Linked DNA regions of Homo sapiens: regions 1 and 2 are each linked to region 3. Evidence: fine-mapped expression QTL. A gene starts in region 3. Each other region holds a variant in brackets. All regions are shown on one strand. Distances are from middle to middle.

Region 1 (10,394 bases), 200 kb after region 3:
CAATTAGGCCCCGTGACCAATAAAAAACTGTGCACACCCTTTTGTCCACATGTGGGATATACCCTGCCCCTCAAAGGAGACCAAGTAAAGTCTTATCCAGTCATTGCAACCACCAGAAAGTTCAAGGTTTCTAAAAGTAGCTCTTTATGGAGACTTATCAACTCCTCACCCCTCCCCCATGATTTTTATACAGTAGAGGAATATGAACAGGATAATCATAATTTAAACTCTCATTAAAAAAAAGTGTAATGAGATACATATAGATGTCATTGGCACATAGCACTGATAAAAATTGCTTACTTGGAAGGGTAGAGACACCCTGGGCTGGCAGTGGCATATAGCTTTTGATAAGACTCTGATTCTGTTATTGAAAATAATGCCCTTGTCAGTTGTTCTTGGTCGTTTCTGGCTGTGCCCTCTGATAGGCTCTTGCATTTCTACCAAAAACCAAACTGAGATAAAGTTAGAAAACCACATTTACTTTTTGGGGCTGTACTACCTTCAAAGGCTACTTGTTTATGGTCATTTTCTGGGTCTTGAAAATTTATTGAAGGTCATAGTTTCTTTAATCTTGGCTTATTGTTTATCTGACAATATAAATCCCTCAACATTTAGAGGGTTCCTTAACTGTTTGTTTAATTTTTTTCCATACACCAGTAACTATTTTAAAAGTGTCCTAAGTTCTTTCTAGCCACAATTCTGAAGCTTACCTTTTTTTTTCTTTATTCTTTTACCTCTGTTTCTAAATTTAATGGCAGATAGTTTGTGGCCATCTGAAACTATAAGCTTAGGTGAGAAGTCAACAGTCTTAATATGATCATGGCAACAAACCTGAAAACCTTTTTTAAACTCAGAAAATACATATGGTTTTTGTTACTAAAAGCATTTCTTACTTTTGGGTGTCTAGAAGAAAATAGCTTTTAAATTTCCTTTACGGCATCACATTTCTTAGTATTCTCTACATTTCCTTTAATTTCTAATTACAAGTCTCCAAATACCTGCCTAAGTTCTTTTTCTTATCCTATCATGTAAAATAAGAAAATAAAAGCCAAAATACACTTTCACTCTGACTCTTTCCAATCTTTTCCTCTAGAATGACAGGCTTAGGCAGCACGTGATCTGACTTTTAATTTATCACAGTGTGGCAATTTTAAAACTGTCTCAAAACTGATTATATTCCTTTCATTGAGAAGTGAGGTCTATAGTTAATGCCCCTGAATCTGGGTGGGCTTAGGATTGTGTTAGTCACTAGACTGTGTCAAAAGGGAGGGTAGATCATACAAAGCCACAGAGGATGCACCTGGCTGTCTGGGAACCCCTGCTGTCAGGATGCTCCCTCTTGGTATGCACCTTTCTGGACTGTAGCCACCATGCTATGGTGGATTATTTCCATCCATGTATATTCTTTGATGAAATGTCTACTTCAAATCTTTTATACATGATAACATTCATTTATATTTGGTTAAGTTTAAAGAGCATTATACAAATTCTTCTTTATCAAATATGTGCTTTGAAAGTACCTTCTCCACCCTGTAACTTGTTTTTTTCGATTAGAGTTTTTTTGAAAAACAGAAGTTTTCAATTTTGATGAAGTCTGATTTACAAAATATTCTTTAATGGATGATGTTTTTCGTGTCATATCTAATAATTTTACCTACTCTAAAATCATAATTTTTAAAGTTATATAGTTTTGATTTTAGTTCAGGGATCCATTTTAAATTAATGTTTTTATAATTGATGTTCATTGTTTTTGTCTATGTACATTCAATTGTTTTTGCAGCATTTGTTGAAAAGCATTTTTTTCCACTGAATTGTCTTTAGATCTTTTTATAAAATCATTTTTATATGTATATAGATCTATTTTTGGACCTTCTATTCTGATCTTTTGATCAATTTTTCTATCTTGACTCCAATGATATACTGTCTTGATATCTATAGCTTTATAATTAGTCCTGAAAAATGGTAATGTTAGTTTTAATGCTGTTCTCCATTTCAAAGTTGTTTTGACTATGCTAGGACTTTTAGATTTCCATATGAATTTTAGAATAATCTTGTCAATTTCTGCATAAAACATTGCTAGAATTTTAGTAAGAATTGCATTGAACATATAAATCAATTTGGAGGAGAAATGATATTTAGCAAAAATGATTTTTTTGACCCATGAAAAAGGCATATCTTTCTATTTATTTAAGTTTCCTTTAATTTACCTCACAATGCTTTTTTAAAAATTTTAATGTATAGGACATTTACAAGCTCAACAGATTTCATATTTTGATGCTGTTAGAATTATTTTCATTTAAATTTCTGATTGCTCTTAGTTTATAGAAATACAATTTGTTTCGAAAGTAGAATGGTGGTTACAAGAGGCTGGTGGAGGCAGTTAGGTGGGGAAAGGGAACATGATCAAAGTTTCAGTAAGAGAGGAGGAATAAGCTTTAGTGAGCTATTGCACAAAACAGTGACTATAATAACTTATAATGCATTGCATATTCCAGAATTTCTAAAAGATTAGATTTTTTGTTTCACAACAAAAAAATAAGTATGTGAGATGATGGATTTGTTAATTTGCGTGATTTAATCATTCCATAATGTAAACATCATATACCCTATAAATACATATATTGTCATTGTCGATTAAAAATAAAACTGTAAAATGAAGTACAATGTATTTTGTATTTTGTTGCCATATCCTCTAATGTATTTTGTTATTATATCTTCCAACCTGGCTAAACTCACTTGTTAGATCTAGTATCCTTTTTTGTGGATTGCATCACATTTCCTACAGAGACCATCATTTCATCTTCAAATAAAGAAAATTGCAGTATTATTTCTTACTTTCCCATCTGAAAGTTTTGTTCTGTTCTTTCTTTTTTTTTCTCTCTCTCTTGTCTTATTGTGCTGGCTAAAACCTCCAGCAAAATATTGAAAAGAAGTAGTGAGAGTGGAAATCTTCATCTTGTACTTGTTTAAAGGGGGAAAACATTTGAGTTTTCATAATTATGATGTTTGCCACAAGTTTTCTATAGCTGCCCTTTATCACGTTAATAAAATTCCCTTCCATATGTAATTTGCAGGGAGTTATTGCTGTTGTTGTTTGCTTTAACAAGAAATTGATGTTGAATTTTAGTCAAATATGTTTTTGTTTTTCACTAGTAATCACATGGTTTTTCTTTTCTAGTTTGCCAATACCTTGAGTTATATTGGTTGAATTTTAAATGTCAATCAACATTGCATTTCTGCCTGAGCCCCAATTGCTCATTATTAATTGTCCTTGTTATATATTGTTGGATTCTATTTGCTAAAATTTTGTTTAGGACATTCCTCTCTGTTCATGAGGGACATTTATCTGCAGTAGTTGCTTTTCTTATTTATTCTTTTAATGTCTTTTTTTATTTGTTAGTAGGTTAATGGCAACTTCATAGAATAATTTAGTAAGTGTTCTCTTTTCGTTAATATTATATGTGAATGTGTATAGAATCAGTATTTTTTTATTTAAATTTTTGGTAGAATTAACCAGTGATGGCACCAGAGCCAATGAGTTTCTTATCAGAGATTTTTATCTAGAAATTCAATTAATTTAAGAGATGTAGGACTATATAAATTAATTCCTTCTTGAGTGAATTTTGGTAGTTTATGTCTTTAAATGAATTCTTCCACTTCAACTAAATTAACAAAATAGTTGATATAATTTTTTTCATAATGTTTCCTTATTATTATTTTAATTTATATAAGAACTCTAGAGTTGTTACCTCTGTCATTCTTATTGGTGATTTGTGTCTTCTGTCTTTTTTTTTCTGATTGGTCACTTCACGTTTATCAGTTTTATCAATCTCAAAGAACTACCTTTTGGTTTCATTGATCTGTTTCTACTGCTTTTCTGTTTTCTATTTAATTGTTTTCCCCCTTTGTGATTTATGATTTCTTTTTTATGCTTATCTTGTTAAGATTTCCTCATTTTTTCCAGTTTCTCACAATGTAACTTGAGATTATCGATTTCAGATCTTCCTTCTTTCAATAAAAGAAAATGTTCAGGGTTAGTCTTTGGTAGGGACATGGAGACCTCTTCCACAGTAACAGAGAAGAGTACAGTATGGATGCTGATGTGCTGGTGGGAACCTGTTGTAGATCTTTTGGAATTGCTTCTATATTCTCAGTCACAAAGGAAGCTTTCTTATCTGAGAATGAGGATGCTAAAGGAAATAAATTTAATGTTCTTTGGTTTGTATTCAGCTTTACTTCCTATTAATATTGACAACTTTCACTTTTTTCATTTAATTGTTATATTTTTCACATATTTTGTATGTTTTTTTAATTTTTAAATTGGTTTTTGTAATGTGGTTTTTAATACCTTTTCATCTTCTTGTACAAGGAGACATTATAGTACGAAGTTTATTGTAATGATTGCTGTTTGAATTATGCCATTTTACTATTAAAGTTTTTAAAAAGCAGATTCAGTGCTCTACTTGTCACAGGCTAAAGATTTGAGCTTTAATATCTCAGACAAGAGTTGTAACTCAAACCTCAGATCATATTGCAGAACACAAGAATACTTGAGGAAAAGTAAGCAAAGTAGAAAAACTGATTTTTAAAATCTTTTTCTCTATAAAATAAGCTATTCCTCAACTTCTTTACATGAGTATGCCACTTTAAAAAGTGCATTTACTGTGCTATCTCATTTTGAATATCACAATTCTGTGAGGTGCTTATTAGGTACAAGCTTATTTTACCCACGAGTAAACCAATGCTTAGCAAGATTAAATGAATTCTCCCAAGTTGTACAGAAAGTGAGCTGAAGAACTGGATCAGAATGCTGATTCCTCTTATTGTGCAATATCTGGCTCATGATATTAGATATAGATAATATACCTATAGCTAATATAGATATTAGACAGTACTATTTCCTAGAATCAGTCCAAAAGCACCCAACTGACACAATATCAGCTCGCCTAGAATTTACATTCTTAT[G/A]TTGAAGACAAAAGAAGTAGTCACTTAACCATATAATTATAAATGTCTTAGGTAGGAGAAGTAGAGAGTCCTGGGAAAGAGTGTAATGACTTCTCCCCTTAGTCAAGGGCCATTCTGTAAGAGTCAGTTTCACAGAAAGAAAGCCACAAACTTCTGCTTGACTGCTTAGGATGCAACTTTGCAATATGGGCATTTCCTCTCCTAACACTTAGTCATAATGCTAACAAGTCATAGTTTCCCTTGGAACACTGACGAAGGAGGAGATTGAGTAATCATAGAAGCTAAGTTATTATTATGCAAAAAAGTATACCTTTGACATATTTATATTTTCTTAATAGTCTTATGTGTCCCTTTTTCTCATTGCCAGAAAATGTTCAGCCAACTGAAGAAACTGAGCAAGGCCCCCACCACCACCACTACAACACACATATTCTTTTATTATTACTTGTAGTCATACAGGAATTTGCTCAAAAAGAAAAGTTAAGAAGGGTCATTTCATTATTCTAAGGTATATACATTTTTCGTTTTATGGTCCCAGTTTTTCCTAAAATTCATTATATCCAAAACTAAATTTCTTATGATCTCTACTGAATCTGCATCTCTTCCATGTCTCTTTACTTAATGAATGTGACATTGGAAGGGATATACTTCACCTCAGAGTTATATTAGGTTTATATGTCTATATTATCCAGTCATTAAAATGGCATAATCTTCTTTAGTACAGGTTGAGCGTGCATAATATGAAAAATCTGAAATGCAAAATGATCTAAAATCTGGAGCTTTTTGAGCCCCAACATGGAGCTCAAAAGAAAATGCTCATTGGAGCATTTCAGATCACAGATTTTTGGATTAAGGATGCTCAACCACTGGGTTTTCTGAAAATATTCCCAAATCCAAAAAACTAAACCCAAATTCCCAAACACTTCTCATCCCAAATATTTCATATAAGGTACACTGAACCAGAAATATTTTTAAGTAAGAAGAAATCATAAATCATTGTTTGCCGAAGCCTGATTTCAAAGGTCTTACACAAATAGTATGGATGTCTATTAGATCACAAAATGTGGAAAATCTTGAATATACCCATTTTTGTTTGATTTTTGTGTATGGTCTAAGATAAGGGTTCAACCTTATTCTTTTCATGAGGAAATCCGGTTTTTCCAGCCCTATCTACTAAAGAGATTATCCTTTCCCTCTCCTGACCTTTTGATTCTCAGCTTCCTATTTGGCTCCATTGAAATGTTTCTGTTTTTAAGCCTGTTCTACACACTCTTTTGATCACTATAGCCTTTTAACATAACTTTAAATAAGAAAGTGTTACACCTCTTTATTTTTCTTTCTCAGAATTACTTTGACGATTCGATGACTTTCGTGGTTCCAGACAAATTTTAGGACTTTTTTTTCTATTTCTGTGAAGAATTTCATTGGAATTTTTATAGAAACTGTGTTAATTCTGTATATTGTTTTGGGTATTACAAACATTTTAACAATATTCTAATCCATGAGCAAGGGGTATCTTTTTATTTATTTGTGTCTTCACTTTTTTTCATCAATGTTTTGTAGTTTACAGTGTATAATCTTTCACATTTTTGCTTAAATTTCTTGCTAAGTATTTTTTATGCTTTTGAAAATGGGATTGTTCTCTTCATTTATTTTTCATATAGGTTATGATTTGTGTACAGATATGCAATTAATTTTTGTATGTCAATTTTGTATCTAGTAATTTTACTAAATTCATTGATTCGTTCTAACTGCTTTTTTGTGGAGTATTTGGGGTTTTCTACATTTAGAATCTTGTCATTTGCCATTAGAAATAACTTTACTTTTTTATTTTTTGATTTGTATGCCTTTTTCTTTTTTGTTCTAGTCTGATTACTCTTTGTAGTATTTCCAGTACTGTAATATGTTTGAACCAAAGTGACGAGAGTGGGCATCCTTGCCTGGTACTGGATCCTAGAGGAAAAGCTTAGTTATTCCCCATTGATTATAACGTTAGCTGTGGTTTTCTCAAAGATGGTTTTTAGTATGTGGAGGAACTTTCCTTCTATACCTAAACTATAGAGAGCTTTGAATCAATAAATAATGTTCAACTTTGTGAAATGCTTTTGCTGCATCAATTGAGATGGTAAAGAAGTTTTTATCTTCTATTCTGTTAATGTGACGTGTTACAGTGATTGATTTGTGTATGGTAAACCAGGCTTGCTTGCCAAGGATAAATCCCACTTGGTCATAATGTACTTTTTTTTTTTTTTTTGAGACGGAGTCTCTCTCTGTCGCCAGGCGGAGTGCAGTGGCACGATCTCGGTTCACTGCAACCTCCGCCTCCTGGGTTCAGGCGATTCTCCTGCCTCAGCCTCCCAAGTAGCTGGGATTACAGGCGCCTGCCACTGCACCCTGCTACTTTTCTTAGTTTTAGTAGAGACGGCGTTTCACCATGTTGGCCACGTTGGTCTCGATCTCTTGACCTCGTGATCTGCCAGCCTCGGCCTCCCAAAGTGCTGGGATTACAGGCGTGAGCCACCACGCCATGTTGTTGAATCCCTTTTGACAATATTTTATTGAGAATTTTTGAATCAATGTTCGTCAGAGAATCGCTTGTCATTTTTTTTTATTGTGGTATCTTTGACTTTGGTATATCGAGCTGGTGATACCAGGACTCATATAATGAGTTTGGGAGTATTTCCTTAGTTCTATTTTAGGAAAAATTTAAGAAAGATTAGTATTAATTCTGCCTTAATATGTGGTAAAATTTAGCTACAAAGCCATCTTGTCCTGAGCTTTTCTTCATTGGGAGGTTTTAATTACCACTTCAGTCTCCTTATTTGTTATTGAACTTTTCAGACTTTCTACTTTTTCTGACTCAATCTTTGTAGGCTGTATTTTCTAAGAAATTATTTTCTCTATTGTCCCTTATTATCCATTCTATTTTTGAGGGATCTATTGTAATACCTTCCAAGTATAAGGCCTGAAACCCCAAAGTTCTTAGAAGAAAACATAGAGGAAAAGCTCTTTAACGTTGGCCTTGGCAATGATTTTTTGGATATCATACCAAAAGGAAAAAGAAAAAATTGATACAAGTTGGGCTACCTCAAACTAAAAAGCTTCTTCACAGCAAAGGAAACAATAAACAAAATGAATAAGAACCTACATATTCAGAGAAAGTATTTGTAAACCATATATCTGATAAAAAATTAATATCCAAAATATATAAAGGGGCCACGTGCATTGGCTCCTGCCTATAATCTTAACAGTTTTGGAGGCTGAGGCAGGCAGATCGCTTGAGCCCAGGGGTTCTAGCCAGCCTGGGCAACATGGTGAGATCCCGTCTCTACAAAATATACAAAAATTAGCAGGCTGTGGTAGCATACGCCTGTAGTCCCTACTACCTGGGAGGCTGAGGTAGGAGGATCACCTGAGCCCAAGCAGGTGGAGGCTGCAATGAGCCATGATTGTGTCACTGCACTGCACTTCAGCCTGGGAGCCTGGGTGACAGAGTGAGATCCCATCTCAAATATATATGTGTGTGTGTGTGTGTGTGTGTGTGTGTGTGTGTGTGTGTGTGTGTATATATATATATATATATATATGTATGTATTTGTGCATATATCTATATATATAGTCAAAAATACAAGAAGTAACAAGTTTTGGCAAGGGTATGGAGAAAAGGGAGCCCTGAAACATTGTTGATGGGACTGTAGATTAATAGGTCATTGTGGAAAACTGTACCGGAGTTCCAAAAGAAATTAAAAATAGAACTACCATGTAACCCAGCAGTCCCTCTTCTGAGTATATATCCAAAAAGGAAGAAATCATGACCTTGTAAAGATATCTGCACTTTCATGTTCATTGCAACCTTATTCACAATAGCCAAGATATGTGAAGAACCTAAGTGTTCATTGATGGATGACTGGATTAAAATCACTGTGGCACACGTATGAATGTATAGAATATTATTCAGCCCTTAAAACAAATGAAGTCTTGCCATTTGCCACAAAATGAATGAGTCTGGAGGACATTATGCTAAGTGAAATAAGCCAGACCCAAAAATAAAAGTATTGCCTGATCTCATTTATATGTGAAACTCAAAATAATTCAAATACACAGAAATAGAGAACAAAACAGTGTTTATCAGGGGTAAGTTTGGTGTGGAAGGGTATGAAAATACAGAGATGTAGGTCAAAATATTTTAAAAAATAGCCCATATGTAGGATAAATAAGTCTAGAGATCTAATATACAACATGAGAACTACGGGTAATAAAATTACCCATTACTACATTGGGATTCATGCTAAATTAGTAGATTTTAGCTATTATTGCCACACACACACACAAATGTTTACACATAATACACACATACACACATAAAATGAAAACAAAGTTACCATAGAACAAAAATCATTTTATTTGTTGAAATTAAATGAAAACTTTTGGAAATGAAAAACTGAAATTGTCTCTGTGTGTGGACGGTATGATCTCGTATATAGAAAACCCTAAAGATGCCACAAAGAAAACTACTAGAAAAGATAAACAAATTTAGTAGAGTGGCAGCATACAAAATCAACATATAAAAATTAGTATTTATAAACGAATAATGAACTATCCAAAAAAATTTTTTAATCCCATCCACAATAGCAACCAAAAAAGAAAACACTTAGGTGTAAATTTAATCAAGGAGGTGAAAGATTTATATACAAAAAAACTATAAAACAGTGACGAAACAAATTGAAGAAAAAATAGAGAAATATCTGTGTTCATGGATTGGAAGAATTAATATTGTGAAAATGTTTATACAACCCAGAATGATCTAAACATTCAATATAAAAATTCCAGTCTTTTTATATAGAAACAGAGAAAACAACTCTTAAACTCGTATGGAGCCACAAAAGACCGTGAAAAGCCAAAGTATACTGAGCAAAAAGAATGAAGCTGGAGGCATCATACTACCTGACTTCAAGATATATTATAAAGCTATTTTATGCCAGCACCATGCTATAAAGACAGCATGGAACTGGCATAAAAACAGATACATCAACCAATGGAACAGAATAGACAGATCAAAAATAAACCCACACATTTTTATCTAATTGATTTTTGAAATAAAATTTAAAAACATACAATGGAGAAAGGAAAAGGAGAGTCTCTTCAATAAATGGTGCTGGGAAAATGGAATATTTGCCTGATGAAAAATAAAATTGGTTTCTTATCTCATACTATATATAAAAATGAACTCAAAATGAATTAAAGATTTATATGTAAGTCTTGAAACCGTAAAACTAGAAGGAAACAGGGGAAGAGCTTTATAACATTGGTATGAGCAATGATTTTTTTTATCTGAACTCTAAACAAAGGCAACAAAAGCAAAAGTATTAATACAAACGAGATTGCATCAAATCTGAAAATTTCTGCACAGCCAAGGAAAAAATAGAGTA
Region 2 (10,394 bases), 25 kb before region 3:
ATACTTAGTACAAAAAACAAGCTACAGGACAGTGTATACAGAGTAAGATCCTTTGGTATAATATAAATCATTTTTAAATGCTACACATATATATGCTGCAATATGCATAATTTGTCCAGAAAAATATACAAAAAACTGTTGATGATGGTTACCTTTGAGAAGAGGAGAGTTTTCATTTTGTACCTTTCTGTACTGTTTGAAATTTATCAAGTGCATGTATTACTTATTTTTTTAAGTGTTAACAGGAATTCTGAGTGATGGGATTATAGGCCATTTTTTGTTTTCTTCTTTATACTCTTCTGTATTTAAGAAAACAAACAAACCAAAAACCCAATAAATGTTATTTTTTTAAAGTCATCTACGCCTGCTACATCCTAAAGTTCATATTTCCCAATAACTTCTTGGTTCAGCAGGGCCAGGGATAGAATTTAACTGCTGCTGGCACATGAGACATGACTATATTAACGAGTGATCTCAGCAGAGGTCCCAGAGCCCTAAAATAGGCCTGGATAGTAGCTTTGTGAGGAGATACAGATCCCGGTCAAGTGACTCAATAGCAGAGGAGGCTGTTCTGTAGGTGTCAGTGAGAGGCTTTGTCACAAGTACAACTTTTTCAGGCTCTCAATTTATTTAATGGTTTGTAAATTTCGGTATCTAAGAAGGGCCTTTAAGAAAACAGATGACATTACTCTGAGAGGAAAATGAACTCCCACCATAAGGGAAAAATATCAAGTGCAAAAGTCACACTTCTACATATAGGAGATTGGAGGGGGAGATCTGAAATAGACTGGGATTTCTAGTCAATAGAAATTTTTATCTCAGGTTAATGTCACTTAATTAAAGTTCAACATACATACCTACTTTGTCCTTTCAGATGATGTGCTATTGTGAAGATAATTCTGAGAAAATAACTACAATATCCTAAGTCCTAGGTAACAATGAACTAACCTTAATTTTATGTTCCTAGCCCAAAGAAGTACATATAAAAATCAGGGCACTTGAATCCACAACCTGGAGAGTATACACTTCTAGGCAGAGAACGTCAGAAGTTTAAAGAGGCATTGAATATACTTCCAACTTGGTTATCAAAGGTTACCAGAACTTGTATGAACAATCCAAATGAAATACCTACATTTTACATTAGGAATGCAATCATATCACACATAGAAAACATGGAAAGTTGTATTATTTCAGTATCAATAAAACATAGCTGTATTTTTAAGTCTGTAATACCTGAGATCCAATTGTATGGGTTGTGTAGATGAGGGCAATTGTAAATTGCCAGATATTTGATACAGGAAAAAACTTCATTGACTGCTTTCATCCCTATATCAGTGATGATACCAGGATTTTCTACCACATCAGCCAAACCATACTTCACCAGATCCGCATTAGCCATTCTGCCTAAAAAGAGCAATCAATTAAAAAAAAAAAAAGTCAAATTCTTAAGTGTTAGGGAGTGTTACCAACTTTGTATCTTACCAGTCAGTATAAAAAGTCTCTACCATCATTCTGTATCATCTGCTTATCATTGGGTTCAGGTATAATTTTAGGTTAGGTATTCCGTACATATGGTAGCACTTCTTGTACAAAATAATAAATTATATTAAAAGTCAAGGGACAGCTAGTAGGAAAAATTATTTCCAATTGTTTAGAGAAGAGAAAAGGCAAAAATTCTTAAAGCATAAGTGAAGGATCTATCATACTGGTTCATACCATGGTAAAGTTTTAGCTTTATCATTTAAAAGGAAAACAAAATCTTAAAAACTCAACTCCCTTACAATAAAATGATGTTCTTGGAGCCCAGTGTGGACATGTGTAGAGAAAGGTAAACTCTGAGAATTTAAGATTCATTGTTAGAACCCATGGCACTGGTTAGTAACATCTATCTATACCCTAAAAGTGCACTTCTAACTCAAACACATGCCACTGGGCTTTAGTGCCTACTCTCTGGTCACAAACTAGGGGTTTGGGAATAAGTAAAGGAGGATCCTTTATTCTAGATCATGTCACTAAGAATCACACCTCATCCCTTGCCTCTTATCATTTCTCCCATCTGCCTGCCCCCTCACGCTCCAAGATTCTGTTAGTTCATAGTTACATCTTTAGTGTCTAGCATAGTGCTGGGGATACAAGAGCTCATGGGAATACGTCTCTCACAGTCTGCAATCAACCAATATGCAGGACAAAAAAAAAACACTGCCACTCTGGTGAAGCTGCCCTGAATATCACAGGGATTTACAACTTTAGCTACAACATGTTAAAAACAATCCATCTTCTCCAAACTTCCAATTTTACTTTCCATATAGTTGACAGTCTTTCTCCTATAGTTCCTATATTTGGTATCTCCTGGCACATCTTACAAATTTCACCTTAATCCATCCTTTACAATTTAGCTGAACTATTTTCTTTAGCTCCTGGTAAGGATCATTTCCCTGCTCTTAGGACTTCAGATGAAACTTACCATTTTCCTTAAGATAGGGTAAACCTTGAACTGACCCTGTTTCCTGGGCACTATCTGAATAAATGCTGTAACCTAACATGACAAATCGATGTCTTGCATTTAGTTTTTTGAGATGAACACCATGTTTCTACTCTTGGGGCTTCCTGCTTGACACACTCCTTTCAAAATCCTGATGATATTACTTGAGATTCATTTTTGTTTTTCTTTTCAGCCCACAGGTGAGCTAAAGGTAAAAGTTATCATTTATTGAATACTTCCTAAGTGTCAGAGATTACTGTAAATGTATACATCACTTTTCCCTTGGTTCCTCAGAGCTACCCAAGAGAAAAGCAGGATACCACCTTATCTTCATTTAAAAAATGAGAATTAACTTGCTTAGGTCTCATGATTAGTAGCAGACAGGCCTCAATTCTCTCTCTCCCTCAAGCTCTAGGACTAAATTGCTAGAACTCTAGGGCTAGGACTATATTGTTTCTGAAATTTTCACTGAGTTATACGTCTCTATCAGTATTATATAAAGCTTACAGATCATAAATCCACATGAACAAAGAACTCTCTAAAGATTCATCTTTGGGTCACTGTCAGAAGACAAAGGTGATGTTTCTATTTATTTATTCTGCCAGACCTTTTATAACAAGAAAGTGACTCAAGTTTTACCAGAGGCCAGCCACCACTTCTTGGAGAGATGCTTCAAATCTAAATTACTGAGAAGAGAGAAACTAAGTGAGAGAGTGTGAGTGAGCAGTGACCTCATGATATCGTCCATAACAAGTACCAGGCACCTATTCTGAAACAGAGAATCCTAGGTCATCTTTGGAGGGACAGAAGATAGTATGCATATGGAAGAAATGGTTAAACTGTGGCAAATAAGAAAATGAATGTACAAAGTTCAACATAACAGACTATTAAGTATGAAACAGAACATGAAACAAGTTGTGTTGAAAACTACGAGATAATGGTAGTCAAGAAGGTATTTTTATGCTATTGAAAACATATGTTGAGGAGAAAGAAACACTACAGGAAAATAATTGGTTATGAAGTTAACACTTGAAGACAATTCTTCAGTAGACCTAAATTTGGCCATCCTGAAGGTACACAATTTGTCAAGTTCTGAGCTTTTGGGAAAAATAGAAAACAAAATTATAGAAAGAATATCAATTTCAAAGCTAATAATTTTGTTACTATACAGACATTGCAGAAACATAGGGAATGTTAGATACTTCATTCAAAACCAGAAAAGCTTGATATCAAATGTATTAATTTTATATAAAATCATTGTACTCATTAGCATTTTAAAGCTATTTTGGAGAAAAGCTGATCTTTTTCAAAGCTATACAGATTTAACATGATTCTAATAGTAAACTGTCTAGAAAAGGATGGCTTGACTTTTTAAAGTAATCACCTATATTAATGAGTACTGTGAAAAACAAAAAAGTAAACAAACAAAAAACCCACAACTATTATTGTAATATATATTAGAAATGAAAAACAGTCATGTTTTTTGAGCTGGATTGTCCTGAATGGAAGAATTAAGCCTTCTTATGTTCTTCTATAATACAAACTAGATCCAAAGAAAAAATGTTATCTGCTATGAGGATGAGAGTTCAAGAAAGACTTGTTGCAAATCAGGTGGGAAGAAAATGAATTCTTGAATAAATAAAAGCATGTTGGTGATGAAAATTTTCTTTCATATCTTATTGATGCCATATGGAAAAATAGTTTGAGTAATGAATTGACATGCATTCAAACCCAAAGAAATGAGTTCTCAATTGTAAATGGGTAAGAAAATGCTGTGAACAAGCTTTCCAACAGCAATCATCATTAAATGAATACTGACCATTATGTGCTCACACTATCTGGAAAATCCAGAACCCCCAGCGGGCTTATTATGGAAATGAAGAGCATGGGCAGGGAATGGGACCTCATCTGAGAGGACCATCAAAAGCTTCAAGAAGTGTGGCAGATCAAATTCAACAATGGAACCAAGGATGACATTCTGTGAAAAAAATGAAGCAGAATGGGAAAGAAACTTGGGCAGTAAAGTGGAGACAATATCAAATGTAGATAAGGTTCTTTTTCTGGTGTATTGTTAGTAACTATATTTTCTATAATATGCTAAAATCAGAGGCAATATGGAAAAAAAAATCACTGACATTTCTAATTTAAAAGTTTATTTTTCAAGACGTGAGAGCACCTAAGATTTTAAGTTGTCTTATGTTCAAAAAGACATGGCACAACCCAATTCAGATTTCAGTTTGTCAAGTAAATTTCTTACAGTAATTCTAGGAATTAAAATGGGATAAATCTTACTCTGTAGCAAAAACTCATCTACATATCCTAGATGAAGGGTTTCAAACTGGGGAAACTCCAACTCTGCCATCTTTAGGGCAGAAAAGACACCATCTTTGGTTAGGGAAGGCTGGATCCGAACTTCATGTAACCTGTGAATAAAGACAGAGAACATATCAGAGTAAAACAAAAACCATCAGAATCAAAGATTCCTCCTAATATAAGTGTATTAGTCCGTTTCTATGCTGCTGACAAAGACGTACCTGAGACTGGGAAGAAAAAGAGGTTTTAATGGACTCACAGTTCCACATGGCTGGGGAGGCCTCACGAACATGGCTGAAGGCAAAAAGGAGCAAGTCACATCTTGACTGATGGCAGCAAGTCACATTTTTGCCTGATGGCAGCAGGCAAAAAAAGAGAGGCTGTGCAGGGACACTCCCATTTTTAAAACCATTGGATCTAGTGAGACTTATTCACTATCATGAGGACAGCATGGGAAAGACCACCCCCATGATTCAGTCATCTCCCACTGGGTCCCTCTCACAACACATGGGAATTATGGGAGCTGCAAGATGAGATCTGAGGAGAAACAGAGCCAAACCATATCAGTAAGACTCTGAAAGAAGTT[C/T]ATGACTTTAGTGAAGTGTCACAGATGTCAACAACTTCCCTCCCACTTCCTCCATTGAAAAAAAAAATATTTTCTTCAAAGGAGTATCTGCAAAGTGTAAGGAAATCTTAAGCAGTACACTGAAGCTATACATTAAATAACAATTAATTACAGGTAAGAATCTTATATCCTTTCAAGTGCTTTACTAAACCTGAAGAGTCAATGTGAGAATCTGCATCTGGTGCTGGTATTTGACATTTTGCTTAGGCTAGCTATTAATGTTGCATTTTAACAAAGAGTATAATTCTGTAGTAGGTAACAATACCTACCTAAACTTAGAAACACTTTTATTTATAATCCTAATCAAGTCTCTTGATGGAAAAAGCTTTGTTTCTGAATAAATTTTAAAAATGCTTAAAGAAAATATTATAAAATAAAAGTGGAGGTAGACCATTGATATGTAAGAAATAGTAAATGTGGCATAAAGTGATATAACCACTTGGTTAAAAAATATAGAGGTGTTACAAGGTCAGACTTTGGAAAAGCTGATTTAAAACACTGATTTCTGAATAGCAAATATTATCACCAAGTAACTAGAACAATTCAGAAAATCATCCAGAGATGGAGACAATGGTCCTGAGAGGGCTACAGACACCAGAGCTTCAATGCTAACTTCTATTGGACTCTCAGCCATTTCCAGAAATTCCACTGCTTTTCTCTGATATGAGACCATGCCACTCTGGAGCTTGCTAGTATGCAGCTCAACTGGTTACCAGTTATAACATTAAGACTACCATGATGTTATACTTATCTGTTATTTGGACTTCTTCGTATTTTAAATTTGAACAAGGCTTGATCAAATGTACACACATATATACACACACATTCCACAATTTTTTGTAAAATAGGGAAAAACATAATTACTTCTAAAGTGAGAGACACAATACAAAGAGGAAACATACCTACGGGCAGCAGTAATGATGAGGTAACCAAGATCTACTTCAAGAGCATTTTTGCAAGCTCCCAGAACAATAGTGTGCAAATTTCTAAAACCACCTAAAGACGAGGAACAAAAACAAGTGTTTGACCATAGCATTTTTAGTGAAGTATTTATATACTATACATTATAAAGTATTATCTGAGATGATAATTACTGATTTAAAAGTAAATCTAAGCTTTGTTTTTGCATTGAAATTAATATCTTAAGATGAATTATAACTACTGGTGACCTAAAAGGAAATGAAAGCAGACCCTCATTTTGCAAAGACACTGATGGCATCTGAAAACTACTCTAAAAGATTTACATTGTTAAGTAAGGATTTTTAGAAAGTCAGAAGCTGATGAGAGAATTGTAAAAAAAGAAACCCTGCCATTTCTGGCCAAATTTCGAACCTCCAAATATCATATGGAACAAGACCAGAACCACTTTAACTGATTTTTTTAATGTTTCTGAAACTTGTATTTACCTACAAAAAAGAACATAAATTACTAATATATAGCTTAAAGAAATGACTGATTTATCTGTTTTAAATTTGTATAAATAAAATCACAAAGTTTGTATACTTTTGTGTCTGGCTTCTTTTACTAAACACTCTGTTTATGAGATTCATCCATATCGCTGTGTAGCTGTAGTCTGTTCACTTATTACTGTACAGTATTTTGCTATATGAATATGCCACAATTTAATTATCCATTCTATTGCCAATAGGCATCTTTCCATTTTGGGATGATTAGAAACAGTGCTTCTATGAACAATCTTAAAAATGTCTTTTGGTGAACATATGTAAACATTTCTGTTGGGTTTAAAGCCAGGAATGCAACTGTTGCTATGTGTATGACCAACTTTAGTAGATACTACCAAACAGTATTTCAAAGTGGTTGTATGAATTTATATTCTGACCATCAGTGTATGAAAGGTCCTGTTGCTTCACATCCTAGCCAACATTACTGTTTTTATCTTTTTCATATTAGTCACGAGTAGGCATAGTCATTTTAGTGCTTGAATATCACACTGTAGTTTCAATTTGCATTTCCCTAACGATTAGTAAACTTTTATCGTTTTTTCATGTTTATTGGCTTCTTGTGTGCAAACTTTTCTATTCAAGTCTTCTCCCATTTTTTCTATTGAGTTGCCTGCCTTTTTCTTATTCATTCCAGGAGTCCTTTATATCTTCCCAATACCCAGTATCTGTATTGCAAACAGCTTCTCCCATTCTGTAGCTTGGTTTTTCACTCTCTCTCTCTCTTTTTTTTTTGAGACAGAGTCTCACTCTCTCACCCAGGCTGGAGTGCAGTGGTGCGATCTAGGCTCACTGCATGCTCTGCCTCCCAGGTTCACGCCATTCTCCTGCCTCAGCCTCCCGAGTAGCTGGGACTACAGGTGCCCGCCACCACGACGGGCTAATTTTTTGTATTTTTAAGTAGAGACGGGGTTTCACCACGTTAGCCAGGATGGTCTCGATCTGCTGACCTCATGATCCGCCCGCCTCGGCCTCCCAAAGTGCTGGGATTACAGGCGTGGGCCACTGCGCCCGGCCGGTTTTTCACTCTCTCAATCATGCCTTTTGATGGACAAAAAAAAAAAAATTTTAATTTTAATTTGGTACAATTTATCAATATTTTCTTTATGGTAAATGCTTTTTGGTGTCCTGTTTAAGATGTCTTTGTGTACTCAAGGTCAACAAGACATTCTTCTAAGTTATTTTTTTAAATTTCATTTCAAAATTGTTCTCATCTGAATCTATGACCCATCTAGAATAAATTTTTGTGTGAGGTATGTTGACTTCTTGAGTAAAATACAAGGCAGGGTCACCCTTAAAAACTGATTAGAGAAGAAAAGTCTCTGTTTTTCTTTTAGGACCTTTATACAAACTCAGCTTTTAGCACCTCTCTACAGGTCTTCTCTCTAGTGAATACACCAGTAGCCTTCTTTTCGTTTTTGACTTTTATCTTGTTAACTATCGCCATCAATCAAAATACTGTTGGTTTTAAGGGGTTGTTTCATCCCACTGGCTAAATGTAATAAAGTACACTTATACCACACTTGACTGACAAAATGTCTAGAAATGTAGTGTTTACTCTTCATTATATTTCAACAGTATTAACTATAATGTCTGTTTGTTAACAATGGTACTTGATGACTTTCCATTTTATTTTAGAGAGCCAAAGTTAAGTTTTTGGTTTCCAACTATTAATCATCCATTTTGCTAAACCACTATTTTTTTTCTGCAATGAGATGTTTAACACAAAGCACATTCTGTTACGTATTATTTATCTATAGTTAAGTATACACAGAACAACTTTTTTCTTTTAAATATCATCATCTGATGGGTAAATCAATATCCAAGTAATATGTATAAAAGTATTTTTTATATTATAAAGTATTATGTGATAGAGATTAACATTATTAATGCCTAAATTTTTTTTGGAAGCCTCGGCTGTACAAGTTGTAAAACATCACCAAAGAACGCTAGAAATCCCTGTTAACATTTCTAAGAAAGATTCCATACATAAGAGGAGGTATTATTAGCTACATAAAAGTCAAAACAAGCCAGAAAACATGTCTTATCACTCTACTGTCTATTTTAAGAAAGTTTAATGTGCACCAAAAGAAAATGAATACTAGCTATGCTCATGGTTACTTACTGTCCATCAAATACAACAAAGAAAGCAGTTACTGACGAGCATTTTCTTTTTAAAGACTTGCCAGGGAAGTTAAATAAAAGCTTAATGATTATTTTAAGTTGATTTTTAAAAAATATTTAGTAATTAAAGAAAATGAATACCTGATCTCCAACTGTCTTCAACAACATGTTGGATAAGACCTCCAAGGAAAGGAACTCGAACCATTTCTAAGTGTTCCAAGTTTCGGGCAGAGGCTAAGCCTGTTACTAAAGGGACATATTTCAAGGAATTTGTGGGTCCTGGAAAAAAAAAAAAATCTTTGATAGAACAATGTAAAGTGCCTTAAAATGAATTTCAAATCAGTGAAAGACATGTATAACTTATAAACTCTAAGTCTTAAAATGACAGCCAAATTGGCTCTCTGAAATCAGGTTCTTGTTACAAATGAAAGTGTTAGCCTATTAACCATACACTTACTCAGCATAAAGGTTTTTCAGTAACACTGTAGAGATATGTAGTATTCCGTAAATTCTCTAAAGGCTCAATAGTTTTGAACTCAAACTAACTAATGGGAAAAAGTCAAGATAAAAATTTGATCCTTCACTCAAGTAAACAGCTCAATCATTTAATCATCTCTATGACCAGTGTTGCATTAGCTACTATAGAAGATCACAAAAGATATGGTCCTGTCCATCAAAAAACCTGCAGTTGACATGGAGCTAGAACTAACATAAGTAATTATAGAAGGATAAGAAGGCAGACTGCATCAAGTGTAAAAATAAGATCTGCCATACTCCATGAAAAAGAAAAAGAAAGAGGAGAAAAGTAAGTTGGAAAAGGCAGAACCTGAAGAACGCATACAAAAACAGAGGAAGAAAGTGCACATCTCAGGATAACGAAACAATAATACAGCATAAGAGAAGACATTGAGATGGAAAGCTGTATGGCTGACCAGGGAACAATGAATAGTCAAATGTGATGATAAAAGAAGATATATCTTGGAAAGGTGTCAGAATAAGGTTATCAAGAGGGGTCCTGGTTATCATGACCTTAAGCAGAGTAGTTCCCACTTAATGCTCTAGTGCAGCGGTGTCCAATATTTTGACATCACTGGGCCACACTGGAAGAGGAAAAATTGCCTTGGGCCACATTGGAAGAGGAAAAATTGTCTTGATATTAAAGATAGCTGATGAGCAGGAAAGAAAAAGAAGAAGAAGAAGAAAAAGCCTATGCATAAATCTCATAATGTTTTAAGAAAGTTTAAGAATTTGTATTGGGCATCATGTGGGCTGTGGCCAGTGGACCGTGGGTTGAACAAGCTTGCTCTAGGGCAACAGGGACACTAAAGATTTCTGTTTAGAAGGATAATACCATAAAAGCTATGTTTAAGGGAGATTAAGGAAGCCAACT
Region 3 (10,394 bases):
TCTCTGAAAATGTTCAGGAGATAAAAAGCTTCCTCGGTCAAAAAATATTTTATTTTCCCCCACCCTTACTCAGTCTTGATAAAGGACAACAAAGTTGCTTCAGCTAAAGTTGGCTTCATCTTCATTTAAGTGAAATACCCAGCTGGGCTATGCTGAGTATTTCATCTCAGGTACTGATGAATAGGGACCTGGTTTCCCTATATGAGAAAGAACACTTGAAATTCACACACCACAAGTCCCAAGTAAGTGGTGATGGTACCTTTTTTTTTTTTTTTCTTTAAGACAGAGTCTCGCTGTGTTGCCCAGGCTGGAGTGCAATGGCGCGATCTTGGCTCACTGCAACTTCTGCCTCCTGGGTTGAAGAAATTCTCCCACCTCAGCCTCCCGAGTAACTGGGACTACAGGCGTATGCCACCACACCCGGCTAATTTTTGTATTTTTAGTAGAGACGGCATTTCACCATGTTGGCCAGACTGCTATCGAACTCCTGACCTCAAGTGACCCACCCGTCTCAGCCTCCCAAAGTGCTGGGATTACAGGCGTGAGCCACCACGCCCGGCCGGTATCCCTTTTTAATGTGCACCCTTTCTCTTATTTGCTTTTCTTTTTAGTTGGAAGAGGAACCAAAGAAAGTGAGGAGAAAACTGCCATCACTAGCCTTGTGTTTTTTTCTCACTCCTACCTCCAAAATACCACTTGCCACTAAACACCCTGCCTTCAACTCACTTGAGAAACTCAGTAATGCAGAGAACGTACAAAGCAGTAGTAGGTTAAAAAAGAAAGAGTAAAGGAGGGGAAAGTCCAGTTATCGGCATTAGAGAAAGATGACTTGGAGGAAGTCTTGCTGAGAAGTCATGGAGCATGAGGGACAGGTGAATACAGGTATACCTTAATTGTGATTCACTTTACTGTGCTTCAAAGATAATGTGTCTTTCACAAATTGAAGGTCTGTGGCAACACTGCGTCAGGCAAGTTTATTGGTGCCCTTTTTCCAGCAGCACATGCTCACTTCATGTCTGTGTGTCACATTTTGGTAATTCTCACAATATTTCATATCCTTTCATTATTATTATATGTGTTACGGTGATCTATGATCAGTGATTTTTGATGTTACTACTTTAATTGTTTTGGAGGTACCACAAACCATGCTGTATAAGATGGCAAACTTGATTGATAAATATGGTGTCGTTCTAACTGCTCCACTGGCTAGCTGTTCTTCCTATCTCTGTCCCTCTCCTTAGGCCTCCCTATTTCCTGAGACACAATGATATTTAAATTAGACCAATTAAGAACTCTACAACGGCCTCTAAGTGTTCAAGTGAAAGGAAGAGTTGAGCATCTCTCACTTTAAATCAAAACCAAGAAATGACTAACCTTAGTGAGGAAGTCATGTTGAAAGCCAAGACAGACCAGAAGCTAGGCTTCTTGTGCCAAACATTAGCTAAGTTGTGAACACAAATAAAAAGTTCTTGAGAAAATTGTTACTCCAGTGAATAAACAAATGATAAGAAAGCAAGACAGCCTATTGCTGATATACACAAAGTCTGAGTTTTATGGACAGAAGTTCAAACCAGCCACATTCCCTAAGCCAAAGACTAATCCAGAGCAAGGCCCTAAGTCTCTGCAATTCTATGAAGGCCGAGAGAGGTGAGGAAGTTTTAGAAGAAAAGTTGAAAGCTAGCAGAGGGTGGTTCATGAGTTTATGGAAAGACGTTGTCTCCATAGCGGAAAAGCACAAGGTGAAGCAGCAAATGTTGATGGAGAAGCTGCAACAAGTTATCCAAAAGATCTAACTTAGATAACGGCTGAAAGTAGCTACACTACACAACAGATTTTCAGTACGTACAGCCTTCCATTGGAATAATATTCCATATCAGATTTTCACTGCTAGGGAGAAGTAAATGCCTAGCTTCAAAGGGCAGGCTGATTATCTTGTTAGAGAATGCAGCTGGTGACATGAAGTTGCAGCCAATGCTCACTAACCATTCTGAAAATCCTAGGGCCCTTCAGAATGATGCTAAATCTACTCTGCCTGTGCTCTATAAAAGGAACAACAAAGCCTGAAAGACAGCACATCTGTTTACAGTATAGTATACTAAATAAGACTTCTACTAAGATCTACTGCTCAGAAAAGTTTCCTTTTAAAATATTACTGTTCATTGACAATGGACCTAGTCATTCAAGAGGTCCATTAGATACACAAGGAGATTAATATTGTTTCCATGCCTGCTAACACAATATCCATTCTGCAGCTAATAGATCAACTAGATCAAGAACTTTCAACTTTCAAGTCATATTATTTAAGAAACAAATTTCCTGGCTGGACCCGGTGGCTCACACCTGTAATCCCAGCACTTTGGGAGGCCGAGGCAGGCAGATCACAAGGTCAGGAGCTCGAGACCAGTCTGGCCAACATAGTGAAACCCCATCTCTACTGAAAATACAAAAATTAGCTGGGTGTGGTGGCATGTGCCTGTAATCCCAGCCACCTGGGAGGCTGAGGCAGGAGAATTGCTTGAACCAGGGTGTCAGAGGTTGCAGTGAGCCAAGATCGTACGACTGCACTCGAGCCTGGTAACAGAGCTAGACTCCATCTCAAAAAAAAAAAAAAAAAAAAGAAATAAATTCCCTAAGGCTATAGCTGCCATAGACTGTGATTCCTCTGATGGATATGGGCAAACTAAATTCAAAACCTTCTGGAAAGGATACACATTCTAGAAGCTGTTAAGAACGTCTGTGATTCATGGGAGGAGGTCAAAATATCAACATTAACAAGAGTTTGGAATCCAGTCCTCATGGATGACTCTGAGGGATTCAAGACTTCTGTGGTTATAGGAGGAGCAGGATTGAAATAATAAACAACAAAAGACATCAGTGGAGGAAGTCGCTGCAGATGTGGAGGAAATAGCAAGAGAACTACAATCGGATGTAGAGCCTGAAGATGTGACTGAATTGCTGCAATCTCATGATAAAACTTGAACAGATGAGAAGTTGCTTCTTATAGATGAACAAAGAAAGTGGTTTGTTGAGATGAAATCTACTTCTGGTGAAGATGCTGTGAACATTATTGAAATGACAACAAAGGATTTAGAATACTACATAAACTCAGTTGATACGGCAGCACCAGGGTTTGAGAGAACTGAATGTAATTTTGAAAGAAGTTCTACTGTGAGTAAAATGCTATCATACATCGCATGTTACAACAAAATATTTCCTAGAAGGAAGAGCCAATCAATGAGGCAAACTTCACTGTTGTCCTAAGAAACTGCCAAGCCACCCCAATGTTCTGCAACCACCACCCTGATCAGTCAGCAGCCACCAAGACAGAGACAAGATCTTCCATTAACAAAAATATTATGACTCGCTGAAGGCTCAGATTAATTGTTAGCATTTTTTTTAAATTAAGTACTTTAAAATTATGGCGTATACATTACTTTAGATATAATGCTGTTGCACACTTGATAGATTATACTACATTGTAAAATATAACTTCTATATACACAGGGAAACCAAAAACTTTGTGACTTGCTTTATTGCAGTAGTCTGGAACCAAACCTGCAGTATCTCTGAGCTATGCCTGAATAAATAAGGAGGAGAGTATTATATATAAAGACTATACTTTGCGGTACCAGGTGTTACCTATAGGCTTAGCAACTTCTAGACCCTAAGACTCTGAACCTTAAGGAAATGTCAGAAATGACAGAATTACAGAATCCCAGAATGTTAAAAGTTGAAGAGGACCAGAGACACTACCTAATCACACAGTTCTCAATTTTTTGTGGGTCACAAACCCATCTGAGAATACGATGAAAGTGGCACATCCGTTTTCCAGACTCATGCAAGCAGAAATACATACACGATTTCAGGGGGTTCATATTCACAGACATCGAAGCTCATCTAGTGATCCCAAATTTTTAAGATGAACAAACAGAACCAGAGAGGATAAGGTGACAAATCACTTGCCCAAGATTAAATAGTGTCAAGGTTCAGGCTGGGATACAGACTTCCCAGGTTACAGTAAACATTCTATCATCAAGTCAGTCCTCTGTCACTGTGGTTGTCTTCCTGCATTCCAGAGCAATGCCCTAGTGCTTGGAGAAAGGCTTCTAGATGCTCTGATAGAACTGCATCTGACCACACCCTACCTTCACCAATTAGGATTTATGGTCCATTTAATTTAGGCTCCCATGCAGTGGTCTATGGCCACCTTTGGTATATTACAGTCACTCTGTGGCTGCCTGCTTAGCTGACCTTAGCCACAGGAAGCATTACTTTTGTCTTGGTGTTGCAAGCACATTCTTAAACCAGAGTTGTTTCCAAAAAGTGTTCTCCTATCTCGTCAATTCAAATCTCCTTCCCATCCCAAACTCAAATTACTTTTCTTTACCCTCGTGAAAAATACCCCCTCTCACTTGAAACTTCCCTATATTCTCAATGATCCTATCTGGTCAAGGGCTTCCCTGCCCTTCAAGTTTCTCATGCCTTTCTTTAGTTTCTATTGGTTTCAGCTTGCTCATATCAAAGTAATCTTGCATATCACTTAATTTGACCTCACAGACCTTAATTGACATCATAGACTATCTTGTGTATCTACTGACCAGGACAGCCTCTCTTGTCTAAAGAAATACCACACCACATAAACCAAACTGCTCAGATAAAAACCACACACAAACAAAACAAAACAAAAACCCCCCAACAGGATGATGGTGCTGAAAAAGGCCTAGGAATCATCCAGCTCAACCCTTCGTTTTACAGATAAGGAAAGTGAGGCCTAGAGATGTTAGATGGCTTGTCCAAAGTCACAGAGGCAGGATGTACCAGTGTGAAGCAGGGATACAGGTCTTCAACTCCTTTTTAATTTTATTTCACTATACCACCTTATTTCATTTTAGTATACCACCAATTTTACTTCACTATATCACCCTATCTTACTGGAATCTAGTTGTCCCTTTTTCTCCTCTGCTATGCATTAGTATCTGTTTGACTAAATATAAAGTGTGTACCTCTGGGCACACAGCCATTTAAACAAAGAGGCACACAAAACTCTACATTCTTTACCCAAGGAGGACATCAGAATTACAGCATCACATATTTTAAAGAGGGGAAAGAAGGCTTACAGATAATCTAAAATGTTAATTCTCAAAATGAAAGTTAAAAATTACAAGCGGATTTTTTTCAGTCTATGCCTATGTAATACATACCCTCCAGACTGGACCTCCTCCTTCCCTGGGAAAATCATGGCTTTATAGAACTATTATTTTATCCTTCACTTGTGCTGGGGGAATGGGAAAGGGGATTAAAAACCAGTGACCTAATCCAACGTCTTCCTTTAGCAGATAAAAAAATCTCAAGTTCAGAGAGAGGAAGGGATTTGGCCAAAGTAAACCATCAAGTTAATAGCAACTTTGGAACAAAAATCAAGGTCTCCTGTTTTTCACTTTGTAGTGATTTACACTGCTGGTTTAGGTGTATAAAACAAAGTTTTCTGGACAGAGCTTCTCATTGCACAGGAACCTTCCTAAGTGACCAGTTGCCCTTGGCCAGCTTGGTGTCTGCAAAGAAACACGGTAGACATCTCTTAGTCAAATTCTGGGTGTGCAGAGTGCAGGGAGAATATGCTTTTCAGGTCTGTAAAGACTCCATGAAAAGGGAGTTAAGAATCTGATTTCCACAGCTAGGGCACGGACATCAAAGGCATCCAACACAGATAAGCAAACTGCAGCACAGAAAAGCTAATGGACCTAGACAAGGTCACACGGTGTGTAGGTGGAAGGGGTGAAACTAGAATTCAGGGCTCCTGATACTCAGGCGTGGCAGCCAAAGATGTGTTCACTGCTTCCTGCTCAGGGACATCTCCTCACTACGCTGAACACAGACCTCCTTCACTTTACTGGCCGAAACACCGACTTAACATTAAAATCATGAAATTCGTGACGCCCGGGGTGGGAGACAGTCACAGAAGCTGTCCAGTCCAACACCCTCACCCATTTCATTGAGGAAACTGGGGCCCAGAGAGAGTTCTTTATGCTGGATTTTGGGGCCAGGTTCAGACAAGCAGGCAACCCCCGCAAGCACGGCCTAGAAGGCCAGGAACTACAAATTCAACCCCTGATCTCTCAAGGAGCTCTAGGCCCCAAGGGGGCCAGAGGCCGAGCTTAAGCGGTCGGAAGTTCCAGAATCCCCACCCAGCTACCTCAGCCCTGCCGCACGCACTCCGGGCTTTGCCACCCCGCTCCCGGTCCCCAGGCCCACTCAGCCGCCGCCTCACCTACGCCGACCCTCCGCCTGTTATTGTGGTTGAGAGGGAGGGACGCTACAGACACTTCCCCGGCCCCTACCGCTGAGGCACTTCCGCTTCCGCCGCCGCTCGCATATTTCCGGAGTGTTGTCATCCGGGGCTGGAGCCTCAAACCCGTGTCCATATTGTGTGTGTGAAGAAGCATCGAAGCGCGGCAGCCATGTTCAGCGTGGCATTTCGGAAGGCTTGTCAGGGGTGGAGAAGCGGGGCGGGTTGCTGTTCTTTCACCTGACACTAAAGCGCCATGCCGGAAGCACTGAGTCTGATACGTCGGAACCAGTCTCCACCGTGTGGTTTGGTCTTGATTTCCACTGGTACTCTGGGGTCTTGGATAAGTCTCTGGACCTCGCCTTTGTCATTTGCGAAGTCGATAGGTTCCAATAGAGATTTTCCCAGAATCATTCAACTAAAAATAGAGAACTTTTTTTTTTTGAGAGGAAGGACGGGGGCGCAGTTAAAGATGTTAATGTTAAGTCATCCCTTCTGTGATTTCGGGACATTATCTTTGCACGTAAGTAATAGTATTTTACAGTCCAAAGGAATTTCACATGAGTGTCATTAAAAACTCTACACGACTCTGACATGTAGGCAAGGATCAACTTAATCACCTTTTCTGTTGTTTAATGGATAAGGAATTGTCTTCAGAGAGTGTAATTGATTTTCACAATGTCTCGCAGATGGACTGAAATTCAGATTTTTACCTTTTACATCCTGTGTTCTTGCCCTAATATACATGTAATTAATATGGGCTAAAATCCCTAGATTTAAATAGATACAAATACTTCTTAGGAAAGTTAGTGTGCATTAAAGCCATGTGAGACACAATTTGACAAGACGTAGCATTGACTAGGCTATTCTGCTGGAGAAGAAAAAGCTGAAGAAGGCTTGGGAATCCCATTTCTTCTTATTCTTTTCTTGATTGATAGCAGACCTACTGGTTTTTCCCCTCTTTCCCCAATATGGTTCGGCACCTTAGGTTTCAGCTTGTCTTAGGCAGTCACAGTTTTAGCTATCCCATTCCGTATGTCAAACCATATATCTGTGTTTTTATTTGGAGCTCTGGTAGGACAAACAAAACAAAACCTCATCATATTCATGTACTATTCATTGTAATCTCAGCTTTCATGTTACATTCTTCCTGTAATTGAAGACAAAAATGAATTTTTATGCTATTTGCTTCTGTCGGTTTCTTCATATTCAAACTTTAATAAAGGAAACAGACTTTAGCTTTTTCTGTTTCCCAGGTTATTCTGAAGAATAAATAGGAATTACGAAAGTTTCTAGTGCAGGGCATGGCATATTTAGAAGGCATTCAGTAAGATTTATTTCAGCACAATTGGCCTGAATTTTTAATTCAATGGAATATGATTTTCATTTTATTAGCATTCCTCCTTTTGTAAAAAGCACTGTAGTGGGACCTGAAATGAATACTCATGAGTAAGAAAGGTTTCCTACCTCAAGTTTAGAAAATTTCCTACCACAAATCATTGTAATAAATGTTAAAGATATTTTCTCACTGCTATGAGTGTTATATATAATAAGATATCAAAACTAGTTTTAACATTTTCAGGTAGAGCATGTTATATGTATCCCTTCATCTCTAGGATTTATTTGTACCTTGATGTTACAGGTTTTCATTAAAAAGGTCCTGAGTTAGTATTTCTCCTGTACAGTGGCACCATCATGGGGTCCCTGAGCGCTGCAGGAAAGTTTGCCCTACAGTAAATGACCTTAAACCGCTGTGTTGTTTTAATTTTCAATCCCCACTTTTTAATTAAATTCTAAAGTATCTCTTTTCATTCTTCCATGAGTTCTAGTATCAGCCCGTGTTCTTCCTTGAAATTCCTTAGGTACCTAAACAACAGATAATCCCTTTGTTAAAATGATGACTAATACTCAAGAGAAGTTTTGGTCAGGGATAGTGGTTGGAGTTTGCTCAGGACAGGTTCATATGGCTATGGAGCCTGTTCAGTGCACAACTGCAGAAGGTGCTATGCATATCAAGGCTATTCTTAACTACCCTTAGACTTGGCGTATATGGCAGAACTCCACTATGAATTCAAATACAGGATTTTTTTTGAAGGTAAAAAGGAAAAAAAAAAACTATTGTAGCTGTTTTGACTGAGAAGTTGTGTATTTAGTAGTCAGCAATGCAGGCTTTAGAACCAGAAAGACTTGGTTAACTGTGAGTTCCTCTGCTTACTGGCAGAGAGACAATGGGCAATCACTTCAGCTCTAAGGTTCAGGTTTCTTTAAAATAGACATTATGGTACCTACGTAACAAGTCACTCCAGAATTTAGTGGCTAAAAATTTTATCTGCCCTGATTCTGTAGGGTAACTGGGTTAGGCTGGGCAGTCCTAGCTTGCAGTCTCTGGCATTTACAGTCAGATATCAAACTGGGGCTGTAGTTAATGTCAGCCTCTAATAGATGTTATATTGATGGCAGTTGAGGCTGGCTGATCTCTAGATGCTCAGTTGGAGCTATTTATCAGAGTGCCTACACTTGGGCTTTCCCTCTGATTTGGGTTTCTTATACCGTGGTGTTTGGGTTTTGACAGGGAGCACTTGGAGGTAGAATGGGAAAAAAGGGAGCTGTTCCAAGCAAAACAGGAGGAAGCTACAAAACTTCATATAATGTAGCCTCTGCAGTCCCAGGAGTGACTTCCATCACGTCGTGTTAGGTCAAAAAAGCCACTAAGCCAGCCCAGATTCAAGAGAAGAATAAGAGTCCACCTCTTAATTGAAGATGTAGCAAAGACTTTGTGGCCATCTGTAATTTACCACACTACCTCATTGTTTTTAATTTTTAGATTTTTGGATGTATGAATATTAGCACAAGCATCAAAAAGTAAGGCTTGTAGTCCCTCCAGCCCAGTCTTGCATTTGTGCATGAATAATGTCATACATTATTTTTTAAGAAAAATTGTGGCAAAATATATATATTTGTCATTTTAACCTCTTTAAGTATACAGTTCAGTGGAATTATGCACATTCACATTATTGTGCAAACACCACCGCCGCCAATCATCATAACTTTTCTATCTTCCCAAACTGAAACTCTTTAAACAACAATTCCCTATGCTCTCCTTCCCCCAGTCCCTGGCAGCCACCATTCTACTTTTTGACTCTATGATTTTGACCACTCTAGGTACTCATATAAGTGGAATCATAACAATATTTGTCATTTTATGTCTGAATTTTTTCACTTAGCATAATATCTTCAGGGTTCATCCATGTTGTAGCATGTATTTAGAATTTAATTCCTTTTTAAATCTGAATAATGTTCCACTGCATATATATTTCACATTTTGTTTATCAATTCATTCTTTATGTTATTTATTTGTTGTTTATTTTTCATTGTGATTAAAAACACATAACATAAAATTTACCATTTTAGTTATGTATTTCCATTCATTTTTAGTTTTTAGTTAATGCATAATAATTGTACATATTCATGGGATACAGAGTGATATTTCAATACATGTATACAATCTATAATGATCAAAGCAGGCTAATTAGCATATCCATTCACCGCAAACATTTATCATCTTTGTGTTGCAAACATTCAAAATCCTCTCTTTTAGCTTCTTGAAAATATACAATAAACTATCATTAACTGTATTCACCCTACCATTAACAGATGAATGAATAAAGAAAATGTGGAACATATACACAAAATATGTATACAAAAGGATGAAATCCTGTCATTGGAGGCAATATGGATGAACCTGGAGGACATTATGTTAAGTGAAATAACTCAGGCACAGAAAGATAAACACTGTATGTTTTCACTCATATGTGGGAGCTAAAAAAATTTTTGAGCCCATTTTTAAGTGTACAGTTCAGTAGTATCAACCATATTCACGTTGTTCAGCAGATCTCTAGAACTTTTTCATTGCGAGACTGATACTCTATGTCCATTGAACAAGAGCTCTCCATTTTCTCCTACCCTAGCTCTGGAAACCACAGTTTTACATCCTGTTTCTGAGTTTGACTACATTAAATACCTCATAGAAGTAGCTTCACACACTTTGTCTTTTTGTGACTGACTTATTTCACTTAGTATGAAGTCCTCAAGGTTTTAAGGCTGAATA

The links. PIP is the estimated chance that this variant, and not a neighbour inherited with it, causes the effect.
Region 1: its variant is fine-mapped to the expression of FBXO38 in whole blood (TOPMed, PIP 0.98).
Region 2: its variant is fine-mapped to the expression of FBXO38 in whole blood (TOPMed, PIP above 0.99).

The regions. Positions count from the first base shown.
Region 1 is chr5:148,181,204-148,191,597 of GRCh38, reverse strand. No RefSeq gene overlaps it. Among named protein-coding and RNA genes, the nearest start is that of SPINK6, 17 kb to the left of the region's middle. The variant G/A (reference allele first, on the strand shown) is at 4,966.
Region 2 is chr5:148,405,146-148,415,539 of GRCh38, reverse strand. FBXO38 (F-box protein 38) reads right to left here. Exons shown (of 22, transcript NM_205836.3): 7 at 9,146-9,283; 8 at 6,323-6,416; 9 at 4,775-4,905; 10 at 1,234-1,404. Among named protein-coding and RNA genes, the nearest start is that of FBXO38, 26 kb to the right of the region's middle. The variant C/T (reference allele first, on the strand shown) is at 5,382.
Region 3 is chr5:148,379,914-148,390,307 of GRCh38, reverse strand. FBXO38 (F-box protein 38) reads right to left here and starts at 6,350. Exons shown (of 22, transcript NM_205836.3): 1 at 6,269-6,350. FBXO38-DT (FBXO38 divergent transcript) reads left to right here and starts at 6,458. Exons shown (of 5, transcript NR_105057.1): 1 at 6,458-6,809. RefSeq lists an enhancer at 6,374-6,573.